2 separate regions of the Homo sapiens genome follow, and region 2 is linked to region 1. Evidence: fine-mapped expression QTL. A gene starts in region 1. The other region holds a variant in brackets. All regions are shown on one strand. Distances are from middle to middle.

Evidence for each region.
Region 2: its variant is fine-mapped to the expression of ZNF880 in anterior cingulate cortex (GTEx, PIP above 0.99).

What each region holds. Positions count from the first base shown.
Region 1 is chr19:52,367,581-52,372,958 of GRCh38, forward strand. It overlaps ZNF880 (zinc finger protein 880), which reads left to right and starts at 2,343. Exons shown (of 4, transcript NM_001145434.2): 1 at 2,343-2,397. The coding sequence starts at 2,386. ZNF610 (zinc finger protein 610) reads left to right here. Exons shown (of 6, transcript NM_001161425.2): 6 at 1-198. RefSeq lists enhancers at 2,025-2,324, 2,335-2,444, 2,645-2,784.
Region 2 is chr19:52,389,755-52,395,132 of GRCh38, forward strand. ZNF528-AS1 (ZNF528 antisense RNA 1) reads right to left here. Exons shown (of 7, transcript NR_125345.1): 6 at 5,037-5,093. It also overlaps a transcript of ZNF880 not described here. Among named protein-coding and RNA genes, the nearest start is that of ZNF528-AS1, 5.3 kb to the right of the region's middle. The variant A/AT (reference allele first, on the strand shown) is at 3,077.

The sequences.
Region 1 (5,378 bases):
ACATAAAACAACATACGCTTCTGGGTGCAATATACTTAAGTAAGTATGATGTTGAGTAATTACACTTAGTACTTGAGTTAGTTTCTCTGTACTCTGGTGTAGGATGTTTATGTGGGTAAAGTCAAAATCACTTTAATAGTACAATTTCAGCCTTGTACACCCTCAAATGTGTGTGAGTGTTAAAGAGTATGCCCTGTATTGTGTTTCTACATGCCTCTTTCTTGTGTGCCAAATAAGAACTATGGTGTGCACCTTCATTTTCATGCAGCAAAAATATATAGTAATATGACAAATATTAGGAAATAAAGTATGGGTTGAGGGCAAAAATACTGTAACATGGCCGGGCCTGGTGGCTCACGCCTGTAATCTCAGCACTTTGGGAGGCTGCATTGGGTGGATCACGAGGTCAGGAGATTGAGGCCATCCTGGTCAACATGGTGAAACCTTGTCTCTACTAAAAATACAAAAAAAAAAAATTAGCTGGGCCTGGTGGTGTGCACCTGTAATCCCAGCTACTTGGGAGGCTGAGGCAGGAGAATCGCTTGAACCCAAGAGGCAGAGGTTGCAGTGAGCTGAGATCACCCCACTGCACTCCAGCCTGGTGACAGAGCAAGGCTCCGTCTCAAAAAAAAAAAAATAATAATAATACTGTAACACAATTTCTTTTTGTACTTCTAGTGTTCAGTGACATCATTTGAAAATATTAATGTTCACCCATCTTCTTTTTAAGTCACACACAGAAAGGGAATTTTGTTTTGGTACATTAACTAGAAACTTCATATAGTCACCCTCACAACTCTTTTGGTAATTTGAATTTTTGACCACTCTTCTGGAACTTGTTTGAAGTCCCCCTAAGGTTTGGCTTGGATCTTGAGAATGATGATCCCATACACTGATATGGTTTGAGAGTGTTTATTATATAATGAGGCTCTGTGGGGGAAAGCAGGGTATACTTTTCCAGCTGGTCCAAAAGTGGCTTCAGAGAACTGGGATAGGTGACTGGCTTGGGGTGTCATGATTGCTAAAGGGTAGGGCTGGGGCGGGGATACCCACTACCCATACTGGAAACTTAGTTACAATTCACACCTAGCATGTATATTTTTATATTTTTTGTATGTATATATATTTTTACATTTTTTTCCTACATTGCCTCCAAATTCTATGTTTAATACATTTCTTCCCTGTTTTGCTCTGGTGAAAACTTTAGGGGACAAATAAATGAGTGCTGTTTGGAGACAAAATTTTGTGACATGGGACTGGGCATTGTGGCGTGTGCCTGTAGTCCCAGCTACTTGGGAGGCTGAGATGGGAGGATCACTTGATGCCAGGAGGTCGAGGCTGCAGTCAGTGAGCTGTCTGCACTTCAGCCTGAAAGACAGAGGGAGACCATCTCAAAAAAAAAAAAAAAAAAAAAAAAAAAGTTGTGACCTGAGTATGTCCATAAGACAATGGCAGGTATACACTAGGATTAATATAAATATGAAAAAAAAAAAAAAACTTGGCCGGGTGCGGTGGCTCACGCCTGTAATCCCAACATTTTGGGAGGCCAAGGCAGGCGGATCACGAGGTCAGGAGTTCAAGACCAGCCTGGCCAACATGGAGAAACCCTGTCTCTATTAAAAGTACAAAAAAGTAGCCCGGTGTGGTGGTGGGCGCCTGTAATCCCAGCTACTCGGGAGACTGAGGCAGGAGAATCGCTTGAACCCAGGCGGCGGAGGTTGCAGTGAGCCGAGATCGCGCCACTTCACTCCAGCCTGGGCAAAAGAACGAAACTCTGTCTCCAAAAAAAAAAAAAAAAAAAAAAGGAAATTGCACATTCCGCCCTGGCAGGGTTTTGCATTTCATATTTTAATTTGCATCCCCTTCATAAACAATTCAAGGACTTTAAAATTCCGGAAACTAGTGTTTATTATTCATTTATATTTATTTATTTTAATTATTTATTTCCAATTTGTTATTTATGATTATGTATTTATTAGGCGCAAGGTTTCTCTCTCATGCCCAGGCGGGAGTGCAGCGCACGACCTCGGCTCACTGCAGCCTCCACCTCATGGGCTCAAGCGATCCTCCCACCTCAGCATCCGGGTAGCTAGGACCACATGCGAGCGCCCCTACAGCCGATTTAAAATTAATTTTAATAGCAGGAATTTTCCTGGATCTAATCATCAACAAACTTTCCCTCTGCCGGGACACAATCTATTTCCAGATAGCTGAGTTCTTCCAGTCTCCACGGCAGGTCTAGCCTCCAAAACGAGACGAGCTGGGAGCGAGGCGGAGGGAAGCGCAGGCTCCGCCCAATCCCACCCGGGCCTGGCCTCGCCTCGCCTCTCAGCTGCGCGCGCAGTTTCCTGGAGACCCGGAAGCAGATTACGTGGAGTGACGGTCATGCTGCGGCGTGTGAGTTTCCCTTTGTTTAGATTAAATCTGGGATGCTGAGTCCCCTCGCGCTTCTGTACCCGGCATCTCAGGGGTCACACAGACCTTGAAATCCCCGCATCGCTCCCTCCACCCCGACTAAACTCAGACGTTCTAATGAGAGTCTGGCGGTCGCTTCCCTGAGTGTTAAAATCGCTCGGAGGCTGGTCCTGTCCCCGGTCTTTCACCACAGGGCCATGTAGACAGCTCCTGTCGCGGAGTTTGCCTGCTTCAAATCCTTCAGTGACCCCTAGACACGGCCCGCGCTGCGTAAAGTTCTCACCCGCGAGATGGATCCACGTCTTTCCGGTCCCCCAAGCCTCGCCCTCTTTTCACAGGCCTGCCCCCTTTTCTGTGCCTTAAATGAGAGGAAATCGATCTGATGTTTACTGCTGATTGTGATGTTTCAGCCTCCATTGGGCTTTTGCTAACACCTAAATAAATATTTAGTGGACAAAATTAGGTTAGTGCAAAAGTAATGGCAAACCGCGATCACTTTTGCACCAACCTAATATTTATGGGCCGGGGCTGGAATTCCATCTTCTCCGGAGGCCCAGGCTGGAGAATTCCTTGAGCACAGGAGTTTGAGACCACTCTGGACAACATAGTGAGACCCCCATCTCAATTTTTGAAACATATGTTTCAGTACGGGTATTTAATAGAGATTGGAATTCTCGTTTCTATGTTTTTACATGGTCTGACTTTTTGAAATAGTTTGAAATAATGTTTATAAACTGAATTGAGCACAGTTTATACATTTTTATTGTTGCAAACATGCTGAAATGCACATTTGCAAAAACAACGACAGCCAGGCACAGTGGTGCACGCTTGTCATTCGAGTTACTCGGAGAGGGTGTCATTTGAGGCCAGGAATTCAAGGCTGTAGTGTGCCATGAATAAGCCACTGCACTGCAACCTGGACACATTAAAAAACGAACAAAGACAAATATCTAAAAAAGAGGTTATTGACAGACAACTCTTTCAGTTGTCACATATATGTTTACTAGAGTATATGTGTGTGAATGTATATATGTATATGAATAAGTGTGTACATGTGATGTGTGTGGATGAGTGCACAGATGAGCAAGTCTATTGTTTTTATCAAAGGCGCATCATCAGTTTATATACGTCTTATATCTTTTAACAGTTGAAATTACATCTTATATATTTTCATGACCTTAAAATTGTTCTACACTGTTATGATAGTGAGTCTATGGCTGTAAGGATAGTAACCTGTTATGGGGATACATGTGCGACAGTTTCTTGATTTTAATCCCGGAACTTATTTTAACTATACTCAGTTAGGTCATTGTCTGTCAATTTACTTTTGATGCTGATCTGTTATTGTTTGATGTTTTTTTTTTTCTTTTTCTGAGATGGAGTCTCTCTTTGTCACCCAGGCTGGAGTCTCGCTTTGTCACCCAGGCTGGAGTGCAGTGGCACCATCTCAGGTCACTGCAAACTCTGCCTCCCGGGTTCAAGTGATTGTCCTGCCTCGGCCTCCCAAGTAGCTGGGATTACAGGTGCCCACCAGTACGCCTGGCTAATTTTTTTATTTTCGGTAGAGATGGGGTTTCACCATGTTTGCTAGGCTGGTCTTCAACTCCTGACCTCAAATGATCCACCTGCCTTGGCCTCCCAAAGTGCTGGGATTGCAGGCATGAGCCACCACGCCTGGCCTAATTCTTAAAGTTTGATTCTAATGCCCAGACTCCTGGGATCTGGCGCTTACTCTGCCATTTTTAGCCTTCACACCTGGGGCAAGTTTCTTAGAATGTCTGAGAAAGAGTTGTCTCTTCAATAGGATGGGAACAGATTGTTCTTTTATGGGCTTTTGTTGTTATAGCCGTTAGTACATGTACAACATTTAGAAAGTGCCTGTCACATGGGAGGTGTTCAAAAGCTTCATCCTGGCTGGGTGAGGTAGCTTACGCCTGTAATCCCAGCACTTTGGGAGGCCGAGGCGGGAGGATTGCTGAGGTCAGGAGTTCAAGACCAGCCTGACCAACATAGTGAAAACCTGTCTCTACTAAAAATAGAAAAATTAGCTGGGCACAGTGGTGGGTGCCTGTAGTCCCAGCTACTCGGGAGGCTGAGGCAGAAGAATCACTTGAACCTGGGAGGCGGATGTTGCAGTGAGCCAAGATTGTGCCACTGCACTCCAGCCTGGGCAATAAAGTGAGACTCCATCTAAAAAAAAATTATATATATTGTATCTGACGCTTCTATAGAAATAACTGTGGGTTAATTTTTTGTATTTCTTATGTTGTCCACAAAATTAGAAATCTCTACTAATTTTTTTTTTTTTTGGAGACAGAGTCTCGCTCAGTTGCCCAGGCTGGAGTGCAGTGGCACCATCTCGGCTCACTGCAAGCTCCGCCTCCCAGGTTCACGCCATTCTCCTGCCTCAGCCTCACGAGTAACTGGGACTACAGGCGCCCGCCACTACGCCTGGCTAATTTTTTTGTATTTTTAGTAGAGACAGGGCTTCACCATGTTAGCCAGGATGGTCTCGATCTCGTGACCTCATGATCCACCCGCCTTGGCCTCCCAAAGTGCTGGGATTACAGGTGTGAGCCACCGCGCCCGGCCTAGAAATCTATACTAATTTAAAGAATATCAGGTTGGGCATGCAGTGGCTCATGCCTGTAATCCCAGCACTTTGGGAGGCCGAGGTGGGCGGATCACGAAGTCAGGAGATCGAGACCATCCTGTGTAACATGGTGAAACCGCATCTCTACTAACAATACAAAAAAAAAAAAAAATTAGCTGGGCGTGGTGGCGGGCGCCTGTAGTCCCAGCTACTCGGGAGGCTGAGGCAGGAGAATGGCGTGAACCTGGGAGGCGGAGGTTGCAGTGAGCCAGGATCGCGCCACTGCACTCCAGCTTGGGCGACAGAGCGAGACTCCGTCTCAAAAAAAAAAAAAAAAAAAAAAAAAGAATGTCATAACTTCTAATGGAGA
Region 2 (5,378 bases), 22 kb after region 1:
TCTAGCAGAGGTTCTCCATGAGGGCTCCGCCCCTGCAGCTCACCTCTGCTCCAGTTCCAATAAAGTTCCTCATCTCCATCTGAGACCACCTTCAGCCTGGACTTTTTGGTCAGAACCATTCAACAACCATTTTCTAGGAAGCTCCAAACTTTCCCACGTCTTCCTGTCTTCTTTTGAGCCCTCCAAACTGTTCCAGCCTTTGCCTGTTACCCAGTTCAAAATTTGCTTCCACATTTTGAGGTATCCTTATAGCAGCACCCCACTCTATACCATTACCAATTTACTGTATTAGTCTGTTCTCACGCTGCTAATAAAGAAATACCCGAGACTGGGTAATTTATGAAGACAAAGAGGTTTAATGGACACAGTTCCATGGGGTCGTGTCCCCCGTGCTTCTGCCACAGGGCCATATAGACAGCTCTTATCGCGGAGTTTTCCTGCCTCAAATCCTTCAGTGTCCCCTGCACTGGCCCGCACCTTTTTTAAAGTCCTCACCGCAAGGTTGATTCCCGCCCTGGGAGCTTCCCATCTGCTCCGCTCCCTCGTCAGCTCCTGGAGCGCAGCGACGCAGCCCCAGTCCCAGGGAGGCCGTGAACTCTTCCTGGTCCTGGGATCCTGCAGACCCTGCCCCTCTCCTGACTTTCTCCTGCCTTTTTCCTCCTTGATCGGGGGCCCTTCTGCTCCCCAGGCCTCCCCTTCTCCTGATATCGAGTGTGGGGACGTGACTTCTATCTCAGGACGTTAAGGTTTCTCTTGTCCCAAATTCCATCCCACAGGAAATGGGCTCTTGAGGTGGGGATCTGACTGCAGTCCCCTCCCTATGAATGTGTGGAGGAGAGGAAATAGAAAAATGGTGAAATGGGAAAGAAGAATGAAGGAGACCCATAAACAGACGGCAGCTGGGTGCGATGGCTCACGCCTGTAATTCCAGCACTTTGGGAGGCTGAGGCGGGCAGATCACCTGAGGTCAGGAGTTTTGAGACCAGCCTGACCAACATGGAGAAACCCTGTCTCTAAAAAATACAAAATTAGCCAGGCATGGTGGCGAATGCCTGTAATCCCAGCTACTCTGGAGACTGAGGCAGGAGAATCGCTTTTACCCGGGAGGCGGAGGTTGCGGTGAGCCAAGATCGCACCATTGCACTCCAGCCTGGGCGACGAGCAAAACTCCATCTCAAAAAACAAAAAACAAAACAAAACAGATGGCAAAGTAGATGGTGGATGAGGGATTTGCAGAGACAGTGCATGAAGATGCTGAGAAAGGAGCAGGGGGAGAAAAGCAACTAGAGAAATTTAGAGAAAAACTGGGTTTCTAGAGAGATAAAGTTCAGCAAGATAGGGAGAGGGGCAGAAAAGGGGAGGCTCCTCAGATGGAGAGTTGGGGAGAGAAGGAGGGATTTGGAGCCAGGGCAGACAGAGCAGCATGGTGCTGGGAGAGCAAGAGGGGCAGCCAGTGATAAGGAGAGCACAGGGAGAACCACAGCCTGGGGAGAACTGGGATCTGGGGATGCCAGAGAGGGGACAGGTGGATATAGCAGGGAAGAGGGGATTTAACAGGGGAAGCTAGGGGGCAGCAGAGACGGGGGGAAGAAAGAGGCAGAACTATATGAAAATTGGAGACAAATATTGGGCAGAAAGAAGAATAAGAGGTGAAAGAAGTGAGAAAGGAGCAGAACAAGTGGAAGAGAAGGAATAGAGGGAAGAGCAGGAGAAGGAAGAAGGGCTTGAAATGAGGAGAATCCTAGGGGAAAAATAAAGAGAAAAAAAAAGCTAGGAAAAGAAGGTGAGAATGAGAGGTAGGTAGAGAAACACACAGTAATGAGGAAAGAGGGGGACACTCAATCCAGATGAATGATGAATTGATTGGATATTATGATTAATTTCTCTATAATAAACATCACATTTGTTTAAAATATACAGATGAAGATGAGAATTGGAAAACTGTCTATAAGGCATGTGCATTTCCTAATTCTTGGTATCAGAGGTTAGCTTCCATTTGCTGTCCTTATTCTGCCAGACGGCAGGCAGTGACTTGACTCATTCAGGTATGGGTCACTATCTTCACTTCTGGGATGGGGTAGGGTGTGTGAGTGTATAAGATAGGAGGAAAAACCAAAGTGTTTTTTCTACTCACAATCAACACAATAGTGAATGCTCAACACAGAATGCCTCATCTCCGGTCATCAAAATGTGTGGGGATTACTTCCCACCAACAAGCTATTTTTCATCAGATAAAAACTGGGTGTTCTCTAATTGAACTCAATTTGACACCATTTATAGGGAGTTAGCATTAGATCTCACAGGAGGCTGAGGGCTCAGTTGCACAAAACTGCCCCCAGAATTTGCTATTGCTAGAGTGATTTACACAACTTGGAGAAACAATTTACTGAGGTGTACCATTTGTTATAAAGGATGTTACACAGGACACAGATCAACAGCCAGATGGAAGAGCATTCCTAATAAATTAATGGAAACAGAAGTATGTTTTGGAAACCATGGACTGACTTTCTTTCTCTTTCTCTCTTTCCTTCCTCCCTTTCTCTCTCTCTTTCTTTTCTTTCACTTTGACGGAGCCTCGCTCTGTCACCCAGGCTAGAGTGCAGTGGTGCTATCTCAGCTCATTGCAACCGCCACCTCCCGGGTTCAAGTGATTCTCCTGCCTCAGACTCCCAGGGAGCTGGGATTACAGGCGTCCACCACCAAACCTGGCTAATTTTTATATTTTTAGTAGAGACAGCATATTGCCACGTTGGCCAGGCTGGTCTCGAACTCCTGACCTCAAGTGATCTGCCTGCCTCGGCATCCCAAAGTGCTGGGATTACAGGCCTGGGCCACTGCACCCAGCCCAGGGCTTGAGTTTTAAAGGTGCCACAGTACACCTTGGTTCTCTTTTTTTATAAACAGGAATCTGTCTTCCTGACCTGAGTATTATCTCTATGTGGGAGCAAAGGAGAGAGCCCTGGACTCTGGAGAGTGAAGGGAAAATAGCAAAAAAATCCAGATGGGAGGGAATGGATCAAAGGTGTGAACACAGGTAAGAGCTCAGATGGGCAGAGTGGAAGCTGTATATATATAT[A/AT]TATTTTTTGAGAGACAGGGTCTTGCTCTGTTAGCCAGGTTGGAGTGCAGTGGCAATCATAGCTCACTGCAGCCTGGAACTCCTGGGCTCAAGTCATCCTCCTTCCTCTGCCTCCCAAACTGGTGGGATTACAGGTGTGAGCCACTGCACCCTGCAAAGCCACACTAATAAATAGTGTTTGGGAAACTCTGCAACTGGGAGAATTCTGTGGAAAACCAATAGTATAAATCCTGTTAGTTTTTTTTTTTTTTTTCTTTTCTGAGACAGAGTCTCACTCTGTTGCCCAGGCTGGAGTACAGTGGCGCAATCTCGGCTCACTGCAACCTCTGCCTCCCAGGTTTAAGCTAGTCTCCTGCCTCAGCCTCCTGAGTAGCTGGGATTACTGGTGCCTGCCACCATCCTTGGCTAATTTCTGTATTTTTAGTAGAGAGAGGGTTTCACCAAGTTGGCCAGGCTGGTCTCGAACTGCTGTCCTCATTTGATCTGCCCGCCTCAGCCTCCCAAAGGGCTGGGATTACAGGTGTGAGCCACCATGCCTGGCCTAAATCCTGTTAGTTTTGAATGGAAATTTTCTTTCTTTCTTTTTTTTTTTTCTGGGACAGATTCTTGCTTCGAGACAATGACAAATACAAACTAGGTTTACTGTAAATATGAGAAAGGGAAAAAATACTTTTATTGTATTAGAAGACTTGAAATCACATGAAGTGATACCAATCTTTTGTTGTTGTTGGTCAGATGTTTTAGCTATTTTAGGTGTTTGGGTTTTTTGTCTTTCTACATAACTGCTAACCTTGTTAGTATCTGCAGAATGCCTTAATTAGGAAAGGTATTAACCCTATGTGTCAGATTTGTATAATTCATATTGCTTTACATGGAGTCTTCCAATAAATGTATATGGTATATGTCTCTATTTGCTGTCTTTGATTTCTTTTATCAGCATTTGGTAGTTGTAACATAACAGTTCTATGAATGTTTTGTTTCACATGTATTTCTTTGCCCCCCCCCTTTTTTTTTTTTTTTTTTTGAGACGGAGTCTTGCTCTGTCGCCCAGGCTGGAGTGCAGTGGCGCGATCTCAGCTCACTGCAAGCTCCGCCTCCTGAGTTCACGCCATTCTCCTGCCTCGGCCTCCCCAGTAGCTGGGACTACAGGCACCCGCCACCACACCTGGCTAATTTTTTTGTATTTTCTTAGTAGAGATGGGGTTTCACCGTGTTAGCCAGGATAGTCTCGATCTCCTGACCTCGTAGTCCACCTGCCTTGGCCTCCCAAAGTGCTGGGATTACAGGTGTAAGCCACTGCACCCGGCCTCTTTGACCTTTTTCTTAATGGAGCAATCATACATAGTATTTTATTTTTAATATCAGGTTTCATGTGCAAATTGCTAGTGTATAGAAATATACAAGATTATTATTATTATTATTTTGAGACAGGGCCTTACTCTGTCATCCTGGCTGGAGTGCAGTGGAGCAATCTCAGCTACTGCAACCTGTGTCCTGCAGGCTTAAGTCATCCTCCCACCTCAGCTTCCCCAGTAGCTGGCACTGCAGGCATGTGCCACCATGGCCTGTTAAATTTTTGTGTTTTGTAGAGATGGGGTTTCACCATGTTACCCAGCCTGGTCTCAAACTCCTGAGCTTGAGTGATCTGCCTGCCTTGGCCTCCCAAAGTGCTGGGATTACAGGCACGAGCCACCATGCCTGGCTGATGAAATATACGATATTTTTGTAGGTTGACCTTATACTTTGCTACCTTTACATTTTTCTTGTTCTAGAGATTTTTGTAGATTTTTTTGGAATTTTCTACATAAAATCATTTCATCAGTTTCCTATTGCTATACACAGTGATTGGCTTAAAACAAGAAAAATTTATTCTTTTATAATTCTGTAAGTCACATATCTAATATGGGTCCATAGTTCTGTGATTCTTCATTAATCTCCAGGGGAGAATTTGTTTCCTTACCCTTTGTAGGTTCCAGAGGCCACTTACATCCTTTGACTCATGGTCCACTTCCTCCATCTTTAAAGGTGAGAAAAAAAATCTCTTTATCCCTCTATTTTCAACACATCACCACTGTCTCTGTCCCTTCGCATCCACCTGCACCCTTCTGATATTGAACCTTGTGATTCTATCACTTTGACCATATAATTCAGGATGTCTATCTAAAGATCCTTATCTAGACCACATTTGCAAACTCCCTTTTGATATATCCAGTAACACAGGTCATAGGGATGTAGCTACCTTCCTTTGGGAAAGGTATTAGCCTGCACAACCAACATATTTTCTGTTGGTACACTATTTTTT